Linked DNA regions of Homo sapiens. The protein of the gene in region 2 purifies or fractionates together with the protein of the main gene of each other region. This does not show direct contact. Each region holds a gene or a part of one and is shown on either strand. Other genes may lie near its edges. The genes, in order: SPAG9 and TPM3.

Evidence for each region.
Region 1: the proteins of TPM3 (region 2) and SPAG9 purify together in Homo sapiens (affinity purification with mass spectrometry; 3 studies listed by BioGRID and IntAct, with this or other methods). This does not show direct contact.

What each region holds. Positions count from the first base shown.
Region 1 is NC_000017.11:50,961,020-50,973,319, reverse strand, and holds the end of SPAG9 (C-Jun-amino-terminal kinase-interacting protein 4), read left to right. Parts: intron 1-2,463; coding exon 2,464-2,613; intron 2,614-6,932; coding exon 6,933-7,048; 3' UTR 7,049-11,146; downstream 11,147-12,300. UniProt on the Homo sapiens protein: The JNK-interacting protein (JIP) group of scaffold proteins selectively mediates JNK signaling by aggregating specific components of the MAPK cascade to form a functional JNK signaling module.
Region 2 is NC_000001.11:154,177,446-154,189,745, reverse strand, and holds part of TPM3 (tropomyosin alpha-3 chain), read left to right. Parts: intron 1-2,303; exon of another isoform or gene 2,304-2,488; intron 2,489-6,527; exon of another isoform or gene 6,528-6,626; coding exon of another isoform or gene 6,627-6,758; intron 6,759-11,541; exon of another isoform or gene 11,542-11,632; intron 11,633-12,300. UniProt on the Homo sapiens protein: Binds to actin filaments in muscle and non-muscle cells. Plays a central role, in association with the troponin complex, in the calcium dependent regulation of vertebrate striated muscle contraction.

The DNA.
Region 1 (12,300 bases), on a different chromosome or scaffold from region 2:
TCTCCTCTCCTTTTCCTCTCCATTGGTAACCACTATCTTGAAGTCGATGCAAATCCTCTTGCCCCTGTTTTTGTATTTTTACTATGTTTGAATGTGTTTATAAACAATGTATGATTGTTTTGTGGTTTTGGACTTTACATGTTAAATGTTGTGTTTTATATGTATGCTTCTACAACTTGCTTCTCATTTTTTGAGATTTATCAATGTTCATACATAAAAATCTAGTTTATTCATTTAACTGGTATTATAACTGAATAAAAGTGCTACATTTTATTCATTCTTCTGTTGATGGACCTCTAGGCTTCTCCCCTTTCTTTTTTCACTATTAAAAACAATACTGAAGCAGACCTTCTTGTGTGCATGTGTAAGGATTTTTTGTTGGGTATAAATCTAAAAGTGGAATTAGCAACATGGTTGTTGCGAGGCCAGTTGGCCCTAAAGATTAAACCATTCTGGTTGGCCTTATCAGTAATACCACTGTGCTCTTGCTTCTGTGGCAGAACTAACTCGTCTACCAACAGAAGTCATTGCTGGCATGCTTGATTTCTTCCAAAGTATAATTGAGTAATGCATGAATGAATCCCTGTGGGGATACGTCAGACTATCCTATCCACTTTCAACATACATTAATTTTGTTACAGTGTGTCGCATTAATGGCTGTCCAGCTAGCTCCTGGAGGCGCAGTCTGTGTAGTTTGACCAAAGGACAGCAGATTCTGACAAGGAAAAAAATATCCCACAATTAAATCTTGCTAAGAGGGTTGGCTTAGAGATTGCTCATTTGTTCATAGTTGTGAATAATATTTAAAGGTTTCTCTCTTTCTATTATTTCACACTCAAGGATTCTACCTTAGAACTTAAGCTTTAGAACAAACAGCACATTTACTAGTAATTTTGTTTGCATAATCTAAATTAAAAATAACCTGTATTTTCCTTAAATATGAGAGGAAAGCCATAGATTTGAAATAAATTTAAATGTTAATTATGACTATGCAAACTCATAGGGCTTAAGTTGAAGACTTTTCTCAGTCTCTTACACAAATAAGCACATTCCTTTTCAAGGGAGAGACCTTTTCCACTGTCTTCTCAGATCAAAAGATTTAGACTATAATAGTTTGAAGCAGGTAGGCTGTGCATGGTGGCTCACACCTGTAATTCCACAACTTGGAAATCAAGGCAGGAGGATCACTTGAGCCCAGGAGTTTGAGACCAGCCTGGGCAAACATAGCAAGACTTCATTAAAAATTTTTAAGAGACCAGGCACAGTGTCTCATGCCTGTAATCCCAGCACTTTGGGAGGCCTAGGTGGGTGGATCACTTGAGGTCAGGAGTTTGAGACCAGCCTGACCAACTTGGTGAAACCCCATCTCTACTAAAATACAAAAATTAGCCGGGCGTTGTGGCAGGCACCTGTAATCGCAACTACTTGGGAGGCTGAGGCAAGAGAATTGTTTGAACCCCAGAGGCGAAGGTTGCAGTGAGCCGAGATCGCGCCATTGCACTCTAACCTGGGCCACAAGAGCGAAACTCTGTCTCAAAAATAAATAAATAAAGTAATTTGGGCCAGGTGCAGTGGCTCATGCCTGTATTCCCAGCACTTTGGGAGGCCGAGGCAGGCAGATCATGAGGTCAGGAGATTGAGACCATCCTGGCTAACACGGTGAAACCCTGTCTCTACTGAAAAAGTTAGCCGGGCATGGTGGCACGTGCCTGTAGTCCCAGCCACTCAGGAGGCTGAGGCAGGTAAATCGCTTGAACCCGGGAGGCGGAGGTTGCAGTGAGCCAAGATTGTGCCACTGCACTCCAGCCTGGGCGACAGAGCAAGACTCCATCTCAAAAAAAAAAAAAAAAAAAAAAAAAAGGTAGTTTGAAGCAGGCAGCTAAGACCCACCTTGCCATGCATATATCTCATATTGGATTTGGGGCCTATTCCTGCTTTGTTACAAAATTGCTTTACTTAGATTTTCAAATTGGGTTTTGTTTGTTTGTTTGTTTGTTTGTTTGTTTGTTTTTTAGAAGCAAGGTCTTGCTCTGTTGCCTAGGCTGGAGTACAGTGGCGCATCACAGCTCACTGCAACACTGAACTCCTGGGCTCAAGTGATCTTTCTGCCTCAACCTCCCAAGAAGCCAGGATTACAGGCGCATACCACCATTCCCGGCTAACTTTTTTGGTAGAGATGAGGCCTTACTATATTTGCCAGGCTGGTCCCAATCTCCTGGCCTCAAGTGATTCTCCCACTTCGGCCTCTCGAAGGTGTGAGCCACCATGCCTGACCTCAAATCGGGTTCTTAAAACCTTCATGTAAATGTTTTCTGATCATGCAGAGCCTTCTAGCTTCCCCAGTATTTGGTTATTAGAATATATTTACCTTTTTGTTTAACTCTAAAAATACTTAAAAAAAAAAAACAAAACAGCCTCCCTTCTGTGATAAGTAATATTCACTTTTGTTTCTGTATAAAACAGGTCAAGTCATCAGCCCACAAAGTAGCAGTAGTGGCACGGATCTGACGGGTGACAAAGCAGGGCCATCTGCACAGGAGCCTGGTAGTCAGACGCCCTTGAAGTCTATGCTTGTCATCAGTGGAGGAGAGGGCTACATCGACTTCCGAATGGGTATGTCATTGGTTCTGGGTGCTCAGTTTGCACTGTGTGCTATGACTTGGGTTTTGTCCCAAAGTAAATAAGAAACCACTCTGATAATGATTTATAAGAGGTTCTCTTTGAGCTCTTTACACACGAAAGGATTTTGTGGGTTTTTGTTTTTTGTTTTTTTCTTTTTGGTATTTCTTTCTTTTTTTTTTTTTTTTGAGATGACGTCTCACTCTGTCACCCAGGCTGGAGTGCAGTGGCATGATCTCAGCTCACTGCAATCTCTGCCTCCAGGTTCAAGTGATTCTCCTGCTTCAGCCCCCCAGGTAGCTAGAATTACAGACATGCACCACCACATCTGGCTAGTTTCTGTATTTTCAGTAGAGACAAGGTTTCACCATGTTGGCCAGGCTATTCTCAAACTCCTGACCTCAAGTGATCCGCCTGCCTCGGCCTTCCAGCTGGGATTACAAGCCCGAGCCACCGCACCCGGCCCTTGGTATTTCTTTTCATACCAAAATGTATTTGTTTGAAAGGAGCATTAGAAATAGCAGGATGTGGTCAATGTGAAGTTTTATGTGAAAAGCATAGGATTTAGGGTCAGAAGGCCTTGGACAAGTCATTCAACCTCTTAGAGCCTCGGTTTTCTGTCAAAATGGAGAAATAAAAATATTTCTTAAACAACTTCATTTGTTCATTTTCTCACCTAACAAACATTAATTGAGCACCTACTGTGTACCTGTCATTCTTAAACTGGAGATACAGAAACAAATCAGACAAAGCCTTCGTCTAATAGATTATAGAACAGTGCAGAGATAGAGACATGTTAATAAATTAAAATGTTACTGATGCTCTGGTAGTGAGTAGTCAGTTCTTTCCAAGGGTAGGGAGAGAAGGAAGTCAAGAAATGATGCTTGAGGTGACTCAGCACTGCATAGTCTTAGCACAAAGGGTCAGGTTGGGGAATGGGGTGGGGAGGACCAGGGGTTGGCACTCCGAGGTAAGAGAATAGCTTGGCCAAAGGTTTAGAGATATGAAACCATTTTAATGGAAGAAAAACTATTTTAAAATGACAAGAGTGTGGAGTAGAAGAAAGTATGAATTTGTTGTCAAAAGGGAGGGAGGGACTGGAGTATGGGAGGCCTTTACATACCAGATTAAGAAGATTGTACTTTATCTTTCAAGCAAAAGAGAACTATAGGAGCAATGTGATTAGAGTTGTGTGAAGGATGGACTGGAGGTTCAAGACTAGACCTAGGGAAATGAGTTGGGAACAAGTGAATGCCCAAGAAAGGTAGTAACAGTGTGAACAGATAAGAAGCATGATGAGAATGTGGGGAAGGAGAGAATGGGCCATAGAGCTCAGGACTGTCAACAGGAGAAGCAGGTCTGGAGGGACGGAAAGAGGAGTCCAGTGCTGATCATGTTGATCTTGAAGAGCATAGTGGTGATTTAGGTGGGAAATTTCCACTGGGCTTCTGAATATACAGGTCCTCTATCTTAGGAGGGAGGGATTTGGGGGCTGTCAGCATGGAGTGGTACTAAAAGCCATGAGGGTTGGTGAGTTCGCCCAAGGAGCTAAAAGAAAAGGTTCCAGTGGCTAAACCCAGTCTCTAATAAAAATACAAAAATTAGCTGAGCGTGATGCCGTGTACCTGTAATCCCAGCTATTCAGGAGGCTGAGGCAGGAGAATCACTTGAACCCGGGAGGTGGAGGTTGCAGTGAGCCGAGATCACACCACTGCACTCCAGCCTGGGTGACAGAGTGAGACTCCATCTCAAAAAAAGAAAAGAAAGAAAAAGGAAAGGTTCCAGGATAGAACCCTGAATTCATACTCCATTTAAAGATCATTAGAGCTTATGGAGGGATCTGAGAAGGAATGGCCAGAGAGGTACAAAGAAAACATGGAGAACTGATGCTCGTGAAAGAGTAGTGCTTTGTAAATTGTAAGACACTGTACAAATATGTTTATTTATTTGCTATAATTTTTCTTTTTTGAGACAGAGTCTCACACTCTGTCACCCAGGCTGGAGTGCAGTGGCACAATCTTGGCTCACTGCAACCTCCACCTCCCGGTTTCAAGCAATTCTCATGCCTCAGCCTCCCGAGTAGCTGGGATTTCAGGCATGTGCCACCACGCCTGGTTAATTTTTGTATTTTTAGTAGAGACGGGGTTTCACCATGTTGGCCAGGCTGGTCTCGAACTCCTGGCCTCAAACAGTCCACCTGCCTCAGCCTCCCAAAGTGCTGGGATTACAGGCATGAGGCACCGCACCCAGCTTATTTGCTATAAATAAACTGATCCCTTGGACTCGCTTAAAATCTCAGTGCTTCAAAAAGTTCCCAGACATAAGGCAGTAGGCAGTTTGAGAGAATATAATAGTGTTGTAGATCAGTAACAAATACTTTAGATATGAATTCTGTAAAGGAATAAAAAAAAATTAGGGTCATTTAAATGACAATGTGACAAATGTGATTAGTGTCACCAATATCTGATGCAAAAAGTTTGTTGACACTTTTAAGAGGGGAAGGCTGTTAGTGTGAACTTTAGAAATTGATTCCAGGGATGTCAGCAGGAATGGAGTCATTTCAAAGTGTTTTGAATAATTGACTATTGTTGAATTCCCTTTTATGAGAGGAGTTGTTAGGGACTCCACTTGGCTGGGGTGATTTTTGTAACTTTGTGTTGGAGTGCAGTATGTCAGTTGGAACCGTACTGAGGAGTTTGTTAATAAAATCTCTATGTGGTTTTTCCATTTCCACTAAAAATTCCTTCCATTGTGGATCCTGAAAATAGAACAAAAATTGCTTAACCAGGTTTGGCAGTATCTCTAGTTATTTCCAGCCTGAAAAACAGACTTGTCTTTAGCATAGGCTAATTTTAATAGTGAATATACTGTTGTAAAAAATCAAATTTGATCTTTTTTGGGGGTCCATTTCCTTTTTCATTTCCTGTAATATTTTAACAGTGAGAAATTGATTCTAAAGTCCCATATTTTTAATGATTTAAACTTAAAACTTAGGCTGTAGAGACCCTAGCAGACAGGATAATTTTCTTACAAGTAAAATCTTCAGAACAACTCAGAAGAGAAATGGCGACAGCCTTTTGTCTCAGCCAGTTAATTTTTTTCATTGAAATTTTTTAAAATTTAAGAGCCAAACTTAATTTTTTTACCTTCTAACCACCTGGGTATGTTTCAGTTCAGAGATGGGAGTTTGAACTGAGTGTTCTCCTCTCTCTAGTTTGATATTGCTGTGAAAAGGCCATTACAGGGCTGGGTAAGGGAAAGTTTGGCCTGCAGAGAAAAATGCAGATATTTAGGGTTTTTTCTCTTCTGTTGTTTCTAGTCAACAGTATCAATATTTTCTTTTGTCCAGCTGAAATTCACATGGGGCACATTACAAAATTCTGTTAGATCAGTGGAATATATCTTTAGGTCCTGTGGTGTGTATGTTTTTAGGATTCTGCTGAAGAATCCATCCCACTAGACAACTTTTCACTGGGTTGTGCCAAAATAACCCTGCTCTGTGACAACAGATACAATTGATGCAAGCTTGTATCGAGAATTATGGTATGCCCTGCACTGGGTCTTATGGAGAGGAGTGTGGTGTACCCCAGACTGGGCCTTGGAAGCCAGTGTCTGATCAGGACACCATGGATCACATTCACTTAGCCGTGATGCAGAAGAACCTGTATCTTGGCTGCTACCCCAACCTCTTTGTTTCTCCTTTTCCATTATACACTGTTAATTTGTAACCTATCCTAAACTTGAAAATCATTGGAAGAAAAACCCAGTAGCTGGTGAATCTGCCATCTGCAGTGCTGCAGGCTAATTATTTTAATTTCCATATGCTTGTGTCAATTATCTTCAATTGGAGAACATTACACCTGTCATTGATAATTGTGAGTTATTTGGGTTTAGTTAGTTTGCTCTGTACCTGTGCTCACGCATTTTATAACACTATTCTCAGTTCTTAGTTTAAAATAAGTGACAGTAGACTCTTCATTTTGGATGAACACAGAATTGCCTTCTTAGCTTCCCATGTCTGGACCATCGGTATGCAGACATGTTGGGGTGGCTTTTTAACGTAGTATAGTGAACTGGATTTTATAAATACAGTCTGAAAAATGAATTAACCTTTTCTGAAGTCAAGCAGTGGCTTGGGTGAATATGGGTGAGGATTCTGACTCTTAGTATTTCTTCTACTATTTACTCTCCAGTGAAAGTCAGACAAGTTTTGGGCATCTTGTTCATGGACTAACCACGAGCATTACATCTGACTCACATCATTCTATATTTTATGTGTTCAGCCTAACTTGAGTCTTCTTATCATTCACTAGGTGATGAAGGTGGAGAATCAGAACTTCTTGGAGAGGATCTTCCACTTGAACCTTCTGTCACCAAAGCAGAAAGGAGTCACTTGATAGTGTGGCAAGTGATGTATGGCAATGAGTGAGCCCATGGGAAACAGGTGGAGATGGGGAAGCCGTCTCTTCTGCATGGTTTATTTTCCCTCTATCCTTTTATTTAATGCTCTTTTGTGAGATAAGTTTCACCACATAATGTGTGAGCATTTTTTCCTGTTAACTTTATATTACAAAATCCGTTCTACCATAACAATACAGAGGAACTAGCTGTGTTACTGCACCAGTGTTATAGGTAACTTCAGTATATTATGAACAAATCAAAGAATGTTTACTTCCTGCAAACTGGTGAATTATAGAAAGCAATCCAGATGTGGTTTACTCTGCCACAGTCTAATGTCATTCACTTCATTTGATGGGGTCACTTGTTAGCTGTCACTAATAATGGAATTAATGGGAAACACTTGATAAATGAAACTGTACCGTTAAATACAATAGCTGAGTTTTCCCCAGTGTATTGTAAAATTGACACACACTAATACAAGATGGATTATCAGGATGTATCTAAATGTCCCGAGAGGGTTAAAAGCTAACTGTAAATTACTTTAACTTTCACTTTCAAATCTGACAAATCTTGTTTATATGGTATATAAAACTTTGTTTTCATCAGATTTGGGGGGGTTTTATATTAAAGAAATTAAGACTACACTATTTAAATAAACGTTTCCTGTTTCTGACTTATTAGAGCTCTAAAGTTTATGAGGCCTACTTCTCTGAATATTCTGATGGGTTTTTTTTGAGACCAGTCTCATTTTCATACTGACATGTCTGAAAGATTTATTATTTATAAAGCTTAGGACATACTCTGGGAAGCTTAGAAGATACTTCAGCACTGGGAGGATTTTTTAAAGGAAATGTGTTTTGTATTTCTTGTACCAGAGAATGGTGATGTTGATTGAGTTTTTTCCATGTAAAAAATGTACTTGTTTGCCAAATGTTCCTAGATTGCTCTTAACCTGTTAATACAAGTAAAACTGTAGTGGGGATGGAGTCTGGCCTAAGTACAGAATGAGGGATTTAATTAGAAAAGTTATTTTCTTTTGTTCTGTATCAAACTGCAGAACAGCTATATACTTGGTATTTTGTACGTGAATAACGTTTTAGCTTTTGTGCCCTTTTGAGCTTGAAGGGTTATCCTCAAAGGGGAAAACTATGAAGGGGAAGAAGACAAACCTAAGATACCATAAAGTAAAGGTTGACATTACATATTTTCATTCACAATGCCCATTAAAAAAAAAAAATAGGTTGGGCATGGTGGCTCACGCCTGTAATCCCAACACTTTAGGAGGCTGAGGCAGATGGATTGCTTGAGCCCAGGAGTTCAAGACCAGCCTGGGCAACATGGCGAAACCCTGTCTCTACCAAAAAAAAAAAACAAAATAAATTAACCGGGTGTGGTGGCACATGCCTGTAGTCCCAGCTACTTGGGAGGCTGAGGTGGGAGGATGACCTGGGCCCAGGAGGTGGAGGTTGCAGTGAGCCTTGATAGCACCACTGCACTCCAGCCTGGGTGACGGAGCAAGACCCTGTCTCAAAACAGACAAACAAGCAAAAAATAGATTAAAGTCTGGATTTCACTGATTTTCTTGCTTAATAAGTTTTTTAAAACCACGATGCTGCAATTTTTTCCCTCTCAAGCTTCTTGAAAATGTGTGATTTACCCTTTTTTATCTATTACTCTAGGCAAAGCTAAATATGATTTTTTTTTTTTTTTTTGAGACGGAGTCTGGCTCTGTTGCCCAGGCTGGAATGCAGTGGTGCGATCTCAGCTCACTGCAACCTCCACCTCTCAGGTTCAAGTAGTTCTCCTGCCTCAGCCTCCCAAGTAGCTGGGATTACAGGTGTGTGCCACCCTGCCCAGCTAATTTTTGTATTTTTAGTAGAGACAGGGTTTCACCACATTGGCCAGGCTGGTCTCAAACTCCTGACCTCAGATGATCTACCCGCCTTGGCCTCCCGAAGTGCTTGAATTACAGGCGTGAGCCCCCGCGCCGGTCCGAAGCAAAGCTAAATGTAATTTTATGTACTGTTTTAACAGTATAAACCTATGGGATAAAGGCCCCCAATCATCAGAAGGACTACTGAAAAGAAAAGAAAGCAAACGTAGATGTCAAATTGTCTAAACATTCTTAAGTACCACTGATTTTTTTTTTCTGGACTATTATACAAAGATGTCTGTAAAAAGTATACCAGTGGCTTTTATGCATATACACGATTAGGCTAGATTGTGAAGTACATGGGATTTCATGAGCCAGAGGAGGCATTTGGATCCATTGGGCCACATGTGACTATAAGCACATTGTGTACACAATAAAATTGTAGCCACTCATGTATTAAAACTGTTTTGGTAAAAGCTGTATTAAAAGAATAATTTTTTGCTTGAGCTACTTAGTCACTTTTTTGCAGGGCACCAAAATGTAGGCTACTTTTCCATAGCTTGTTTGCTATGTTTTTATTTCATCTTAAATCTGAGCCATTTTTGGCAATATCTTTTAAAAAATCATTATTAAACATTTATTGGAAATGTTGTATAGATTCACAAGAAAGAGACACCAAAGTGTTTGGGAATTTTAATCCCAAGAAGTAAACATCCCAGAGTCAGATCCCATTTGCTGTTGTTCAGCCATGTTTGTATGACTGAATGTAATTTAGGAAATCAGGAGTTAGAGATGAAAAATACAAACATGTCAAATGGTTGTAATTGCTTTTTTTGAACTTACTGGCTTTAACTTAAGTAATATAGGTGTGTAGTTGTTTTATCTAAAGATGTCAGATTATCTGTGGCCCTGTTAATTAACTGCAGGGACCAGAGAGAGGACAAAAATGCCTGTATAATTTGCTTTAAAGGCTTGTCCTTATGTTTGTAATTTCAGTTAAATATTTTCTACAGATTGCTTCACTTCCCCTTTCCCCCAATAACAAGTTCATATTCTTGTAATGTTTACTTTGGTCAACGTGGTAATTTTTGGAAGAAAATGCCAAAATGTAAGCTTCTCACAAGCAGCAAAGGAATGTAACTGCCTGTAGCTACCACATCAAGGGAGAGAAGAGGCTTGCGTACTTTGGGTTGATCTCACTGTACAAAAAAAGTGTACCCCTATTGGAAGAAATAAGGAATACTTGAAGGTTTCTCCTTTTTTTACACTTGAGTCATGTGCAAGGTTGAACCATATGAAATTGCCAGTGTTCAACCATTGCTGATCTGCAAAAGCGACAATATCATATGCCTCAACCTAACACTTACTCTTAAATGCAGGTTAAAATCTCTGTGAGGCAAAGGGATAATATTCTCTAGGAACTCACTTTTGAGAGTATTTTTCTCTAACCCATGTGGATCTAAATTTTAAAAATAGGAATGAATCTCTTAATTGCAGCTTGTGGAGAGTATAAAACATTTTGAGCACAATATGCAGCACATAACTTTTCAGATTGTGTTTGCATAGAAAAGGTTAAAATCAATTCTTTCAGTTACTGTATTGTTCATTTCTTGTAAAGGTCTTCCTACATTTGAGACGAGACCCTTTAACATAGGCTGCCTTAGTAACAAAATAAAACAGATGTGTCATAATATTAACTGTCCTAAAGAACATGTGTCTTGCAAATGCCATGGAACTGAATATTTATTTCCTTGTGAGTATTATGACCGTTACCAAAGGACTCAACCAGATTTAGGGCTCTTCTTAATTGATCATGTTCAGAAAGGGACTCATTTGGTCCCACTTTGTAACATGGGAAGAGTAGAAGAGAAAATTAAATGTGGAAATCATAAATGCTTTTCTAACAGGGTTATGCTATTCTGTAACACTAAATGTCTGTCTTTTCTCTTAAAAGATTAAGTTTTATTAATTTTGTCATACATTTCTCTATTTGAATATATCTTAACCATTTTATGTTCCAAATTCGTTTTTTGTCCAAGACATTCTATCAGAATTTTACTTGCCTCTATAATCTGAAAAATGGGTTCTAGAATGTCCCACTTGCTGTCTCTTAGAGGCTGAGCTTCATTTCTATGAGCAAAGAGCTCATTTAGCAATGTAGTTATTTCAGTATTTATTTCTATTATGGAATCCCTGGGGTTCAGAATGTAACTTTGTACATGAGATATATATAAATATGTATATGAACATGTATGAGGTCTAGTGTGTTTTGTTTTGTTTTTACCGTTCCTGGGGATCTGAACTTGGTTTTTATTTGCAAGTCCAATAATCTTCCCCATCACACATGTCATTCCTGAGGGTCAGGACTGTTGCCATTTGGCACCAGCTAAAGGTGAGCAGTGGGGAACCCTCATGCTGGTCAGCTTGGCTCACGTGTTCAGGTGAGATATGAGAATAGACAAGAGGGCTTAGGAGAAATGTGGGATCCCTGAGTAACAGCCCACACATGATACTAAGGCATACTATTTGCCAAATTATTCAATAATAAGAGGCAGGGTGTAATGTAATTTTAACGCAGCGTGCTTATTTGTGATCCATTTGCTTGGGCAAGACTCGGGAAGGAAGAATGACTATAAAACTGATCATGTGGCAGCACAATGTGACTCCAGATTCAGTGCAGCGAGATTTAATCTCTTCCAGTGTGTTTTGTTTGTGCCTTCAAGAAACGTGGGGTTTTAACGTGATAGTAAAAGTTGCCCCAGTTGGCATGTTAATAGGACCATTCACTAGATGAAGGCATAGTCATCTGTTCAGTGAGGTTGGTTGCCCTAGAATACAATGACTAGGGCGGCTCATTCCTAGTTTTTATAGGACCTTACCCTGCCTGCCCCTTAGTCCCTGGGGAACAGGGCAGGAGCACCAGCCTCATCACTAGAACTGTAGTCTGCAGTGTCCCCCTTGTGGAAAAACTATCTTTCAGACTAGTGGAGAGAGACTGCTTCAGCCCCCAGGCTCTTCCTTAACCAGCCCCTGATCCCTCAGACTCAGTGTAGGCATGAAAGCCTAGAGATCACAAGGGGCCTGGACTTAATCTTCAGCAGCAGCCAATTTATTAGGAAAGGTTTTATAGTTAGGGGACTTCTCAGAATGCCTTAAATATTGGATAATTGATAGAATTTTGCTTTAAACTCGTTTTCTTTAGAAAGACATAGTGGTATGGTGTGAAAGAAGGCTGTATAACCCAGGCTGTGACCCTAGCAAATCACTTTAACATAGTATCCCAGAGTCCCCCACACAGGGCTGTGGAATCGGACCCTCCTGTGGGGTCTGGGCCCAGGCGTCTGTAAAGAGTAGTGGGTAAGTGTGATATTTAGCAGAGGTTGAAGCATGCAACTCTCATGTATTTG
Region 2 (12,300 bases):
GCTCACTGCCATCTCCACCTCCCAGGTTGAAGCGATTCTCCTATCTCAGCCTCCTGAGTAACTGGGATTACAGGCACGTGCCACCATGCCTGGCTGGCTAATTTTCATATTTTTACTAGAGACGGGGTTTCATCATATTGGTCAGGCTTGTCTTGAACTCCTGACCTCAGGTGATCCGCCTGCCTCGGCCTCCCAAAGTGCTGGGATTACAGGCGTGAGCCACCCCGCCCAGCCAGGTTTCTTTTTATTGTTGTTGTTGAGATGGAGTCTCGCTCTGTTGCCCAGGCTGGAGTGCAGTGGCACAATCTAGGCTCACTGCAAGCTGTGCCTCCTGGATTCAAGCCATTCTCCTGCCTCAGCCTTCCGAGTAGCTGGGATTGCAGGTGTGTGCCACCATACCCAACTAATTTTTGTATTTTTTTTTTAGTAAAGATGGGGTTTCGCCATGTTGGCCATGCTGGTCTCGAACTCCTAACCTCAAGTGATCCGCCTGCCTCAGTGTCCCAAAGTACTGGGATTACAGGCGTGAGCCACTGCGCCCAGCCTAAGCCACTGCGCCTGGGCTTTTTTTTTTTTTTTTTTTTTTTTTTTTTTTTTTTTTTTTTTTTTTTTTTGAGACAGAGTCTTGTTCTATCACCAAGGCTGGAATGCAGTGGCAAGATCTCGACTCACTGCAACCTCCACCTCCCGGGTTCAAGTGATTCTCCTGCCTCAGTCTCCTGAGTAGCTGGGATTACAGGCAGCTGCCACCATGCCCGGGTAATTTTTTATATTTTTAGTAGAGACAGTGTTTCACCATGTTGGCCAGGCTGGTCTCCAACTCCTGACCTCAAGTGATCCACCCACCTTGGCCTCTCAAAATGCTGGGATTACAGATGTGAGCCACCATGCCTGGCCTCTGCCATTAGGTTTCTGATCTGTTTTGTTTTCCACCACTTTCAGTGGCCAAGGAAAGTGGTAAGAATTGAATATATTATGCCAGAGGTTAGAAACACAAACTAAATATACATCATTTAAACTCATTCTTCCAAAAGTTAAGGCCAGCACAGGCTTTTTTTTTTTTTTTTTTTTGAGACGGAGTCTTGCTGTGTCACCCAGGCTGGAGTGCAGTGGTACGATCTTGGCTCACTGCAAGCTCCGCCTCTTGGGTTCACGCCATTCTCCTGCCTCAGCCTCCTGAGTAGCTGGGACTACAGGTGCCCGCCACCGCGCCCGGCTAATTTTTTGTATTTTTAGTAGAGATGGGGTTTCACCGTGTTAGCCAGGATGGTCTCGATCTCCTCACCTTGTGATCCGCCCGCCACGGCCTCCCAAAGTGCTGGGATTACAGGTGTGAGCCACCGCGCCCGGCCAGGCCGCCACAAACTATTAATTCTCCCTTCTTGTGCCCAGTGTGGTGGCTCAGACCTGTAATTCCAGCACTTTGCTTTGAGAGGCCAGGGCAGGAGAATCGCCTGAGGCCAGGAGTTCAAGACCAGCCTGGGGAACATAGTGAGGCCCTATCTTTACAAAAAATTTAAAAATTAGCCAGGTGTGGTGGCATGTGCCGGTAGTCCCGCGTACTCCAGAGGCTGAGATGGGAGGATCGCTTGAAGCCAGGAGTTCATGCTTGCAGTGAGGTATGATAATGCTACTGCACTCCAGCCTAGGTGACAGAGCAAGACCCTGTCTCTATTTAAAATGATAAAAATTCTCCCTTCTCAGAAAACTCAAAAAAACAAAACAAAACAAACAAACAAACAACCCTACCAAATCTACAGGTTACCCCTGGGCTTTGGGCAAGTGGATGGCTGGCTGGAGTTGTATAGCCTAGGTTCCTGGTATATTTGGATGGATCTCTCTGTTTCTAACATATGGGCATGAAGATAGAAGTTTTCACAAACTAGCACAATGTCAGGTTAATAACAGTTTTGTGAGAAATTGGGTAACATCAATCTGGGTCTGCTCTTAGGCTGAAACGGCTAGTATGTGGGCTTGAGGAGGTGTTTCCAGGAGCAAGAAAAAGAACAAGTCTAACCTGAGATCATGAGAAGGAGAATAACATAGAGGCTGTACGCAATACATCAAAATCATTAGGAATATAAAAGGATTTCCTGGGGATGAATTCTGTCTATCTTAATCTGTTTTACACATGTACAGACATACACATACACACACATAGCACCCCTCACCTAGATGTGGTCTACTCAGTATATTCATTTGAAAGAAGTTTCTTCATATTTACATAGGAATCCACCAAAACCCATTTAAATATGTAAAGTGAGGGTTAAAAATACTCATTCAACCCCTCTCCCCTTTGTTAGCTTTCCCAAGTCAGAAAGTACCCTCAGAGATATGCATAAGAACAAGAAACAGGAGAGGGAAGGTTGTGGCCAGGAGCAAGCAAGAAGAAAGGTTTCTTTCCTCAAAGCTAGAGTCAGCAAACTACCACCTGTGGGTTAAATCTTGCAACAGCCTGGTTTTGTAAATAAAGTTTTATCGGAACACAGTCATGCTCATTCTTGTACATACTGTCTACTGGCTTTCTTATCTCTCTGGCCACAAGACCCTAAAAGTTGGATGACCCCTGCCTCAAAGGGTCAAAGAAGGACAGTGTTTATAGGAATTGGGAGAGGTGCTGAATAAGGACCAACAAGGTTAAAAGCAGAAAGCAAAGGTAAGAGTCATCAGCAGCATAATATATGCATCTTTGGAGGGAGTATACTCTGTCCAATACAAAGGAAGTTAACAGCTCAGCTTCTGTCCTTGAGGTTAATAAATAAGTAAACAGAGCATATTATCTTGAAGTAGATATAAGCAGTAGAGAAGGAGGAGGGAGTCAATAACTACGTGTTTACACAAGCAGTTCTGGTTATCTGAGAAGCCTTTCTGAAAAGTGCAGGATTTACTAGGACTGCTTGAATAAAGAAAGGGCAAGGGTATGGCAAGGCGAGTCCAAACTTTTTTTTCCTCCCTAAATTTGTCTAACTTTGTTTTCTAAGTTGTGGTAAAATACGCATACATAAAACTTACCATTTTAACCATTTTTAAATGTCTAATTCAGTAGTAGCATATTTACATTGTTGTGCAACCACATCTAAGATCATTTTAATCCAAGATGAAATCAGATGCTGTTTAGGGAGAAACAAAGGGAAAGAGGAGTGCATTGTTAGGACATAGAGTCATAACACCATTTTTTAGGGACAGGTGGCAGGAAGGATGGGGAGAGAAGGGACAACGATGGACATATACACCTGTTGATATATTGTATTGCTGGTTACTAGGAACACAATAGCACTGGGCCCCTTGCTGTCTATCCATTGTGCTTCTAAAGGCTATCATGAGTCAGTCCATCTGTTTGACTGCATTAAGAGGAGATTATCTGCTCAAATCTACCAGTCTCAGAAATGCAGTGGTGCTCTCAATACCCTCTTGGTTTGGCTAGGATGAGGTCTTCTGCTGCTTTACCAGGGCACAGGGAGGTACAATAGTGCCCCCTGCTGAGCAGCACCCAGATGACAAAGTGTCACTTCTGCCACATCTTGATCAGACTTCTACAAAGCAAGTTAGAAAAATTCTTAGGCCATCAGGGTAGAGTCTATTAAGAGTCAGAACCCTGATCTTCCTTCCTAATTTCTGGGGGAAAAATCAGTGTGCAGGTTACTCTATTGAGAAAATTATTATCTATCCAAGTTGTTTCTTCTGAATAGTCTCATTGCTCGGTATTTCCAAAAGGTGATAGGAAAACAGAGGCTCTGCAGGGAGCATTCTTAGAACTAGACATTGAGGGCAGCAACTGTCTTGCCTACTATTCCTTTCAGGGATTAGGACTCTTCATTGTAAGTCCTGTTCCACATCCTAATTTTCTAGGAGAAAAGAGAGCTGTCCCAGAAGAAAAATTTATCACGATTACCTACTGGGAAGGTGGGAGGAATACAAAGAAATAAGAGGGAAGATAACGTTCTCAAGTCTCTTTACTATTGTGCTTCCAGAAATCCTGCATGGCAGTGCCTGTAGGGAAAGTTTCTTTTTTTGTTGTTTTTCTTTTTTTTTTTTTCAGACTGTGTCTCACTCTGTCACCCAGGCTGGAGTGCAGTGGCGCGATCTCGGCTCACTGCAACTTCTGCCTTCTGGGTTCAAGCAATTCTCCTGCCTCAGCCTCCCGAGTGGCTGGGATTACAGGCGCCTGCTACTGCACCTGGCTAGTTTTTTGTTTGTTTGTTTGTTTGCTTGTTTTTGTGGTTTTTAGTAGAGACAGGGTTTCACCATCTTGGCCAGGCTGGTCTTGAACTCCTGACCTCGTGATCCACCTGCCTCAGCCTCCCAAAGTGCTGGGATTACAGGTGTGAGCCACTGCGCCTGGTCTGTTTTGCCATTTTTTTTTTTTTTTTTTTGATACAGAGTCTCACTCTGTCACCCGGGCTGGAGTAGAGTGGCACCATCTCAGCTCACTGCAACCTCTGCCTCCTGGATTTAAGCAATTCTCTTGCCTCAGCCTCCCTGAATAGCTGGAACTACAGGTGTGCACCACCACACCCGGCTAATTTTTGCATTTTTAGTAGAGACGGGGTTTTGCCATGTTGGCCAGGCTGGTCTCAAACTCCTGACCTCAGGTGATCTGCCCGCCGTGGCCTCCCAAAGTGCTGGGATTACAGGCATGAGCCACCACATCTGGCCAAAGGGAAGTTTCTAACTCATAAACAGTTCCTTGGGGGTACTTGGAAGTACAGTGGCATTGAAATTGGTAAAAGTTGTAACAGAATGGAGGCTCAATTCTATAGTACAGTTTACAGGCACTCATGTCTGGCTGTTGCATGAAGGATCTAGTAACAGTCGTCTGTTTTTTATTTTTTTGAGACAGGCTCTCAATCTGTCACCCAGACTGGAGGCAGTGATACAATCTTGGCTCACTGCAACCTCTGCCTTCCCGGCTCAAGAAATCTTCCCACCTCAGCCTCCCAAGTAGCTGGGACTACAGACGTGCTGCCACCAAGCCTGGCTAATTTTTTAATTGTTTGTAGAGACGAGGTCTCACTATACTGCCCAGGCTGGTCTCAAACTCTGGGCTGAAGTGATCTTCTCGCGTTGGCCTCCCAAATGTTGGGATCACAGGCATGAGTCACCCCGCCCGGCTGACAGTGGTCTGTAATAGAGGATTTCTTCCTGATAAAATGGGGGCATATCTTTCTTACCTACAAAAGGAATTGTAAGTGATTATTAAATTATTTATTTATTTTTAGAGATGAGGTCTTGCTATATTGCCCAGGCTGGTTTTGAACTCCTGGGCTCAAGCCATCCTCCCACCTCAGCCTCCCAAAATCCTAGACTTACAGACATGAGCTACCACGCCCAGCTGATGATTAAATTGCCAAGTCCTGAATCATTCCAAGGTTTGGAGGGGCTGGAAGGTTGGTTAATTTGGTGCATGATGACTCTCAAAAGTAACAGGGACCTGTAATCCCAGCACTTTGGGAGGCCGAGGCCGGCAGATCACGAGGTCAGGAGATCGAGACCATCCTGGCTAACACGGTGAAACCCCGTCTCTACTAAAACTACAAAAAAAAAATTAGCCGGGCGTGGTGGAGGGCGCTACTCGGGAGGCTGAGGCAGGAGAATCGCTTGAACCCGGGAGGCGGAGCTTACAGTGAGCCGAGTTCGCACCACTGCACTCCAACCTGGGCGACAGAGGAGACTCCGTCCCAAAAAATAAAAAACAAAACAAAAATAAATAAAATAACAGGGAGCCTGACGGGGTGGCGTGCACCTGTAGTCCCAGCTACACCGGAGGCTGAGGTAGGAGGCTCGCTTGAGCCCAGGAGTTCGAAGCTGTAGTGAGTTGTGATCTCGCCACTGCCGCACTCCAGCAACAGAGCGAGATCTTGTCTCTTAAAAAAAAAAAAAAAAAAAAAAAAAAGGAGAAAAGTCTGTTCTAAATAGAACACTTAAGTTCATACCATGCCAAATAGAATGAGAATTTGTGCCATCTTGCCCATCCCTTCCACTCCGACAGTTCCATTCATTGACTTCCAGGAGACGGGAGAGAGAACCTACCTACCTGAGCCGACTTTGAAAGGAGACTGAGTGGGGCTCTTTTGAACCTGAGGCCCAGAAAGTCTTTTAGACTTTTCTTATAACTTGGTTTTGGAGTTTGTCGTGGGGTGAGTGGAAGCAGAGACTTGTAGGATGTTTATATTGTGGAGCAAATACAGTGAGGGGTGACGGGTATCGGCATTGCGGGAGTGAGGGGTCAATTGCGGGAGTGTAAGGTCAGCCGACTACCTGCAAAGGGGCCAACCATTGTGGGCAGCCAGCCTGGCGGGAGAGGCTAGGGCACGAAGCGCCGCCCAGTTACCATGGTAACACTCCCTCGTCCCAACCCCGTCCCAGTTTACTGGCCCAAGGTAAGGCCGGGAGCCGTACTCCAGGGCGACTGGGAGGATCCACTCCCTGCCGCGGCTCTCCCTCCAGTGGACTGCCTTCCCGCCTGCCTGGCGGTGGGAGGGCGCGGCAGAGGGACGTCACATCCGGGCGGGTTGGTGAGTTCCGGTATTTCAGGGCGTAGCAGGCGGAAGTAAGGGTGAGAGGAGGCTGCAACGCCGAGCGGAGGAGGCAGGAACCGGAGCGCGAGCAGTAGCTGGGTGGGCACCATGGCTGGGATCACCACCATCGAGGCGGTGAAGCGCAAGATCCAGGTTCTGCAGCAGCAGGCAGATGATGCAGAGGAGCGAGCTGAGCGCCTCCAGCGAGAAGTTGAGGGAGAAAGGCGGGCCCGGGAACAGGTACGGAGATGGTGAGGCTCATGAGGGAGGGGCAGGCGCTGGAGTATCCGGCAAGCGGAATAAGGTCCCTTTTGCCGTGGAGCACGGTCCTCTGAAGGCCGGCGGGCTCGGAGATGAAGTTGGGATCTCGGAGGATGGGTGGGGCTCAGCACCAGTAGGACACCAAGCGGACGAGGGGGAAACAGTGCTCGGGCGAGCAGGCTTGACCTTTGAAGAAATTGAGCCTTACGGGGTTTGGGGTGTGGCTTTCCTCCTCTTTTTTTCTCCACCTCATTCATTCAGTGCCTCCGATCCGGGCGCGGCCGTGGGAGGGGCTCAGCGGCTTCTCCCTCCCCCACTTCCCCATGGAGGGTGGGAGAACTTTGCTCTGGCTTGAGGTTTCCTGCCCAAGGGGTAAGAGTGGGTGGGTGCTTCTCTGTTCGGGGAGGGGCAGTACTGAACCTTCTGTGAAATGGTGAGGGTTTTGGGGTGGGAACCGTCGGAAAGACCCCGGCCTGCCTGCTGGCAGCTTTTCCGCTCCCTCCTCCTGCTCAGGAAATGAGGCAGCAGTTGGCTGAGAGGAAGCGCGGTGCCCTCCCTCCCTGGAGGAGCTCGAGGCCACAGGACCGCCTCTCATCCTCTGGCCAGGGGCCCTTTCCTCTTACGGGGTGCTCTTGCAGCTGCTACACCCACTCTCTGAATCTACGTGAAACGGCAGGGGAGGGGATAGTACTTCTCTCAACGTTAGTGCAAATGTAGGAGCCAACCAAACTTGCCTGGCCCTACCCACAATGACCTGGAAGGCAGGAACTTCTGTCAGATTCAGGCCTTTATTGCTGAAGTGTGATCAGTGCAAGCCGAACTGGTTAAGAACATTTCTTCCGAGCAGAGCTGATAAGCGAGTGTATGGCAGAGAATCAGATGGTGTGCCAGTCTCAAGGTTTCTGATTGACTTGGGCAATTTGGTGGAGACAATAATGAATTCCAGGTGACTCTAGTGGAATATTTGTTCAACTGAAAGTGGAAACATAAAATGTTGGTGGAGTGAACAGTGATTCTAGTGATTTCTTTCTTCCTTTCTTTTTTTTGAGACAGAGTCTCACTCTGTCGCTCAGGCTGGAGTGCAATGGCATGATCTCGGCTCATTGCAACCTCCGCCTCCCGGGTTCAAGTGATTCTCCTGCCTCAGCCTCCTGAGTAGCTGGGATTACAGGTGCCCGCCACCAAGTCTGGCTAATTTTTTGTATTTTTGGTAGAGACGGGGTTTCGCCATGTTGGCCAGGCTGGTCTCGAACTCCTGACCTCAGGTGATCCACCCACCTCTGCCTCCCAAAGTGCTGGGATTACAGGTGTGATCCACCGTGCCCAGCCTATTCTAGTGATTTCTTTAAACGTCTTTCTGTTTAAAAGTGGCTGATTAGTTTTAGTGTAAGCCATAAGATTTTCCAAGGTCTAGGGTGCAGTCTAATAGATGGAGCTGATACGAGTTGAGGCTTTGTTTTGGAGGATCTTGAGAGAGTAAAGTAACTGTTGCTAAAATTCAAGATCCAGTGAAAGTACTCATGTGGTTTATTCTTTGTTCTTTGTTCTTTCCCTTGGTAAGTTTTTGTTTTTGTTTTTCTTTTTGGCTGCTCCTCTGGGAAATAACTGAGAATGTTTTTGGGAGGGGGAGGGGTGGATTTCAGAAAAGGATGGTAATTGGGGGACAGCTGCCCTCCAGTTTAAATACTTAAAGATTGTTGGAATACTCACTTATTTTTATAAGTGGTCATGGAGATGCTGGGATGGGAGCTTGTTGTCTTCCTCAGACACCTTTTTCTAGGTAGATTTTTTTCCTCTGTTCAGTTTGCCAACAACTTCTTATTATCTGTGCAAGTGAGATGGACTGGCTGGGTGACTCTTTATGGCCAGTGGCACTTTCTCATCTCCTTTGTTCTGGAGACCAGATAGCTTTAAAGGGGAAGACAGAGGAACTGGCCATGTGTTGAGCTGCAGAATCTTAGGCTCAGTATTTAAATATGGACATTCTAGGAGTAGTTCTAAGGTGGGTGATTCCTGCCTCCCATCCCCCCTCTTTTTTTTTTTAGATGGAGACTTGCTCTGTAGCCCAGCCTGGAATGCAGTTGCACGATCTCTGCTCACTGCAACCTCCACCTCCCAGGCTCAAGTGATTCTCCTGCCTTAGCCTCCTGAGTGGCTGGGATTACAGGCATCCACCACCACACTCGGCGATTTTTTTTTATTATTTTATTTTTTTATTTTTAGTAGAGATGGGGTTTCACCATGTTGGCCAGGCTGGTTTCAAACTCCTGACCTCAAGTGATCTGCCTGCCTCAGCCTCCCAAAGTGCTGAGATTACAGGCATGAGCCACTGCGCCTGTCCTGGGGTGATGTTTCTTAAGCTACTTTCACTCAGAGCCTGCCAAATTTGCTTATTGAGCTGAGGTCTAGTGAGGAAGTCCTCAGAATGGGGAAGTAGAGTTATAGTTAAATATTGATGAAATCATTTCTTCTACTCCCCAGCCTGAAGAAGCTTAATCTTTTGACTTTCTGCTGCTCTGCTGAACTTTGAACCCCTACTGAGGAGGAGACACCTGTGGGAAGGGAGGGGGGTTGCTTGGGCTACCTGTTATCCTCTTAAGGCATTCTGGAATGTGGGTTTTGCAGACTCCTCCCTCCTCTGGAGCGGGAAACTGCACTCTCTGATGGTATCTCATGCTGTTAGTGGGATTGTCACTTAATTATTTTCCTGGTTACTTTGTGTGAACATCCAAGCCACCCTTGTTGGGAAGCTAGATGAGTCTAAAACTGAGACACTGGTGTTCTAGGATCCATCTTTCTTTTCTGCTCTCGGCCTGGAAATTGGTCTTTTATAATGTAGCACCTTGTCAAATTTACTTTCAGTTCTGTATTTCCTTTTTACTTCTGTCTAAATGGAAACAGATGGCAACATAATGTTTAAATGCAGTCTTTTTCCTTATCTCTTTTTTTTTGTGGTAGTGGTGATAAAAATACATGTAAAATTTACCATTTTAACCATTTATAAATGTACAGTTCACCTTATCTGTTTTTAATAACTCTCTCCTAATTGTCCCTGATATTTTTCTCTTTTTAATTTTTTTCTAGTCTAAAAAACTTAAGAGGCTGGGTGCGGTGGCTCACACCTGTAATCCCAGCCCTTTGGGAGGCCTAGGCGGGTGGATCTGAGGTCCACCTGTGGATCTGATGAAACCCCATCTCTACTAAAAATACAAAAAATTAGCTGGGCATGGTGGCGCATGCCTGTAATCCCAGCTACTTGGGAGGCTGAGGCACAAGAATTGCTTCAACCCTGGAGGCGGAGGTGGCAGTGAACCAGGATTGGATCATGCCACTGTACTCCAGCCTGGGCGAGTATCGGCACTGGGGGAGTGAGGGGTCAACTGCGGGAGTGTAAGGTCAGCACACTACCTCTGCCTCAAAAAGAAAAAAAAAAGTAATAACAAAAACCTTAAGAGTACTACCGAGGGAGTGGGCTTTGATTCTGGCCTTAATCCTAAATTCCTAGTCTCTGGAGAGGTTAGAATGCTTGACTGTTGTGTGGTTCTCTTCTATTCGTGGGCCTGGTGGACTAAGCAACCTTTCTTTGGTTGCTTTGCTTTCCTTTCTCTTTCCCCAGTACTAGAACACACACTCACAGGGGAGAGGCAGATAGCCCTTTACCCCTGCTTAGGCTCCGCCTTTGTTTACTGTGGGGCAGATAGCTCTACTCCCTTCCAACTTGCCTCCCCTTTGGTGAAGTTTAAATTCCCCAAGGACACGGTATCTCCCTGGGTAATGCATTTGTGAGCACAGTGAACTCAAATAGTCCTTTACTCACAGGGCTCAAGCCTAACTTTCTGATACTCTTTCATTTGAATTTTATCTGTGGCTTTTATCTAATAAGAGAAACCCCAGTGTGGCAGAAAGCCAGATTTAGGCTAATCCCCTTCTGTCCTTGGCCCTGTTCTGCCTGAGAGTACCATCACACTGTCAGTTTCTTGCCTGGAGGGGTTGACATATTTGGGAAATCTCTTTGGAGTGGAGGATAGCCGAAGGTGTTGTCAGCCATCTGGTAATGTGACTGAGTTGCTGGGGCATTCTACTCTTTCCCCAATCCCTCACCCAGGATCTTTGCTTCCTGGGCAGTGGAGAATCCTATTATTACTTGAAGGGAAGAACCACAGAGTACTGTATATCCTCCACACTGGGCAGAGATAGGTCAGCTGAAACACCAAAACCGCATCTGGATGGGCATGCTAAAACCTAAGATGATTAGGAAAGTGCAGAGCTTAACGTTTCCCAGGGCCACAGGTAGCCTGGTCTGCAAAAAGTAGGCCTGTTCAATCTCTTGGTACCCATTGGTATTATTTGACCTGAAAGGGACAGGCACTGTGCATAGACTCATGAGGGAAAAGTCAGCTTGTCTTCCTTGTTCCTTTAAACAAAGTATCAGATCTTGATTCTGCAGGCTTTTGTTTCATTGTAAAGAGAACTGATCCTCTGTGCTAGGAGAAAAGAGAAAGGCAAGGTCCCATTCCCTACCACTCCACCCTGGAGGGGGTCTCTGAAGCTTTTTCTAGGACTCCCATCTCAGGTTCTGCTTTTGATACAGGCTTGTTCATGTGTGCATGCTCTTAGGAGGGCACCAAGATGTGTTTTCCCCCTCTCCCTTTTCAGCCTTGCTAAGAATTCTATTGTAAATGCTGATTTGTGGGAGAAACTGCCTGAGCCAGCTTGCTGTCATGGCAACTGTACACCCCCGCCCCATAGCCTGTTATCTTCTACTCCAGTTTGGGTAACTACTGGTGAGCTGCATGATGTCTTACATTTCATGAGCTTCCTCTAAATCTAGTTGTATTTTTCGTCTGAGGGGGGTAAGTCATTTTACTAGCAGTGTCTCCTAGGTCTTGCCTGATAGCCTGACTTGCTCTTGATCCATGGCCTTGTTGGGTTTGTGAGGAGAAATGTGTGTTGTTACAGAGAACATCTATTTTTCTGGAAGAGGCAGAAGCAGAGAATACTTGTCTTTGTGGTGTTTTGAGTAGTGTAGTTAGAGGCACAAATGGTTTCTTAATGATTTCAGCTTATGTTGACTTCTCGATTTTCTTTGCCTGGTGGCTAGATTGTAGCCCCAGCCCTCTGCTTCCCTTCCTAGTCTCTTCAGCTTCTCATGTTTGTATGTGGAAGTTTTTGTGCCAGTCCTGATGGTTAAAAAGGAGTCTTTTGGTCTATATTCTTCCTCATCGGAGCTAGTGGCCCAGGCTGTTTCTATAGCTGCACCAACTCCTGCCTGCCAGGAAGAAATCAGGGTAATAGAATTCAGGCACAATCTGGGCTATAGAAGAGAGATCGTGTTTACCAGGCACTTGGATAAGCATCTGAACTGGGTGGTGTGCGGGGCATATTAAATTCTTGTATACTGTTGCAGTCAGGGTACCTCCCACCAGTAAAGGTAGCGGGGAGGCAGTCATGGAAAGAGGTTTTCCTACCATTAGAATTTATCCATCCACCTGCAGGCTGCCTCCTTCTTTCCTTGTTTCTT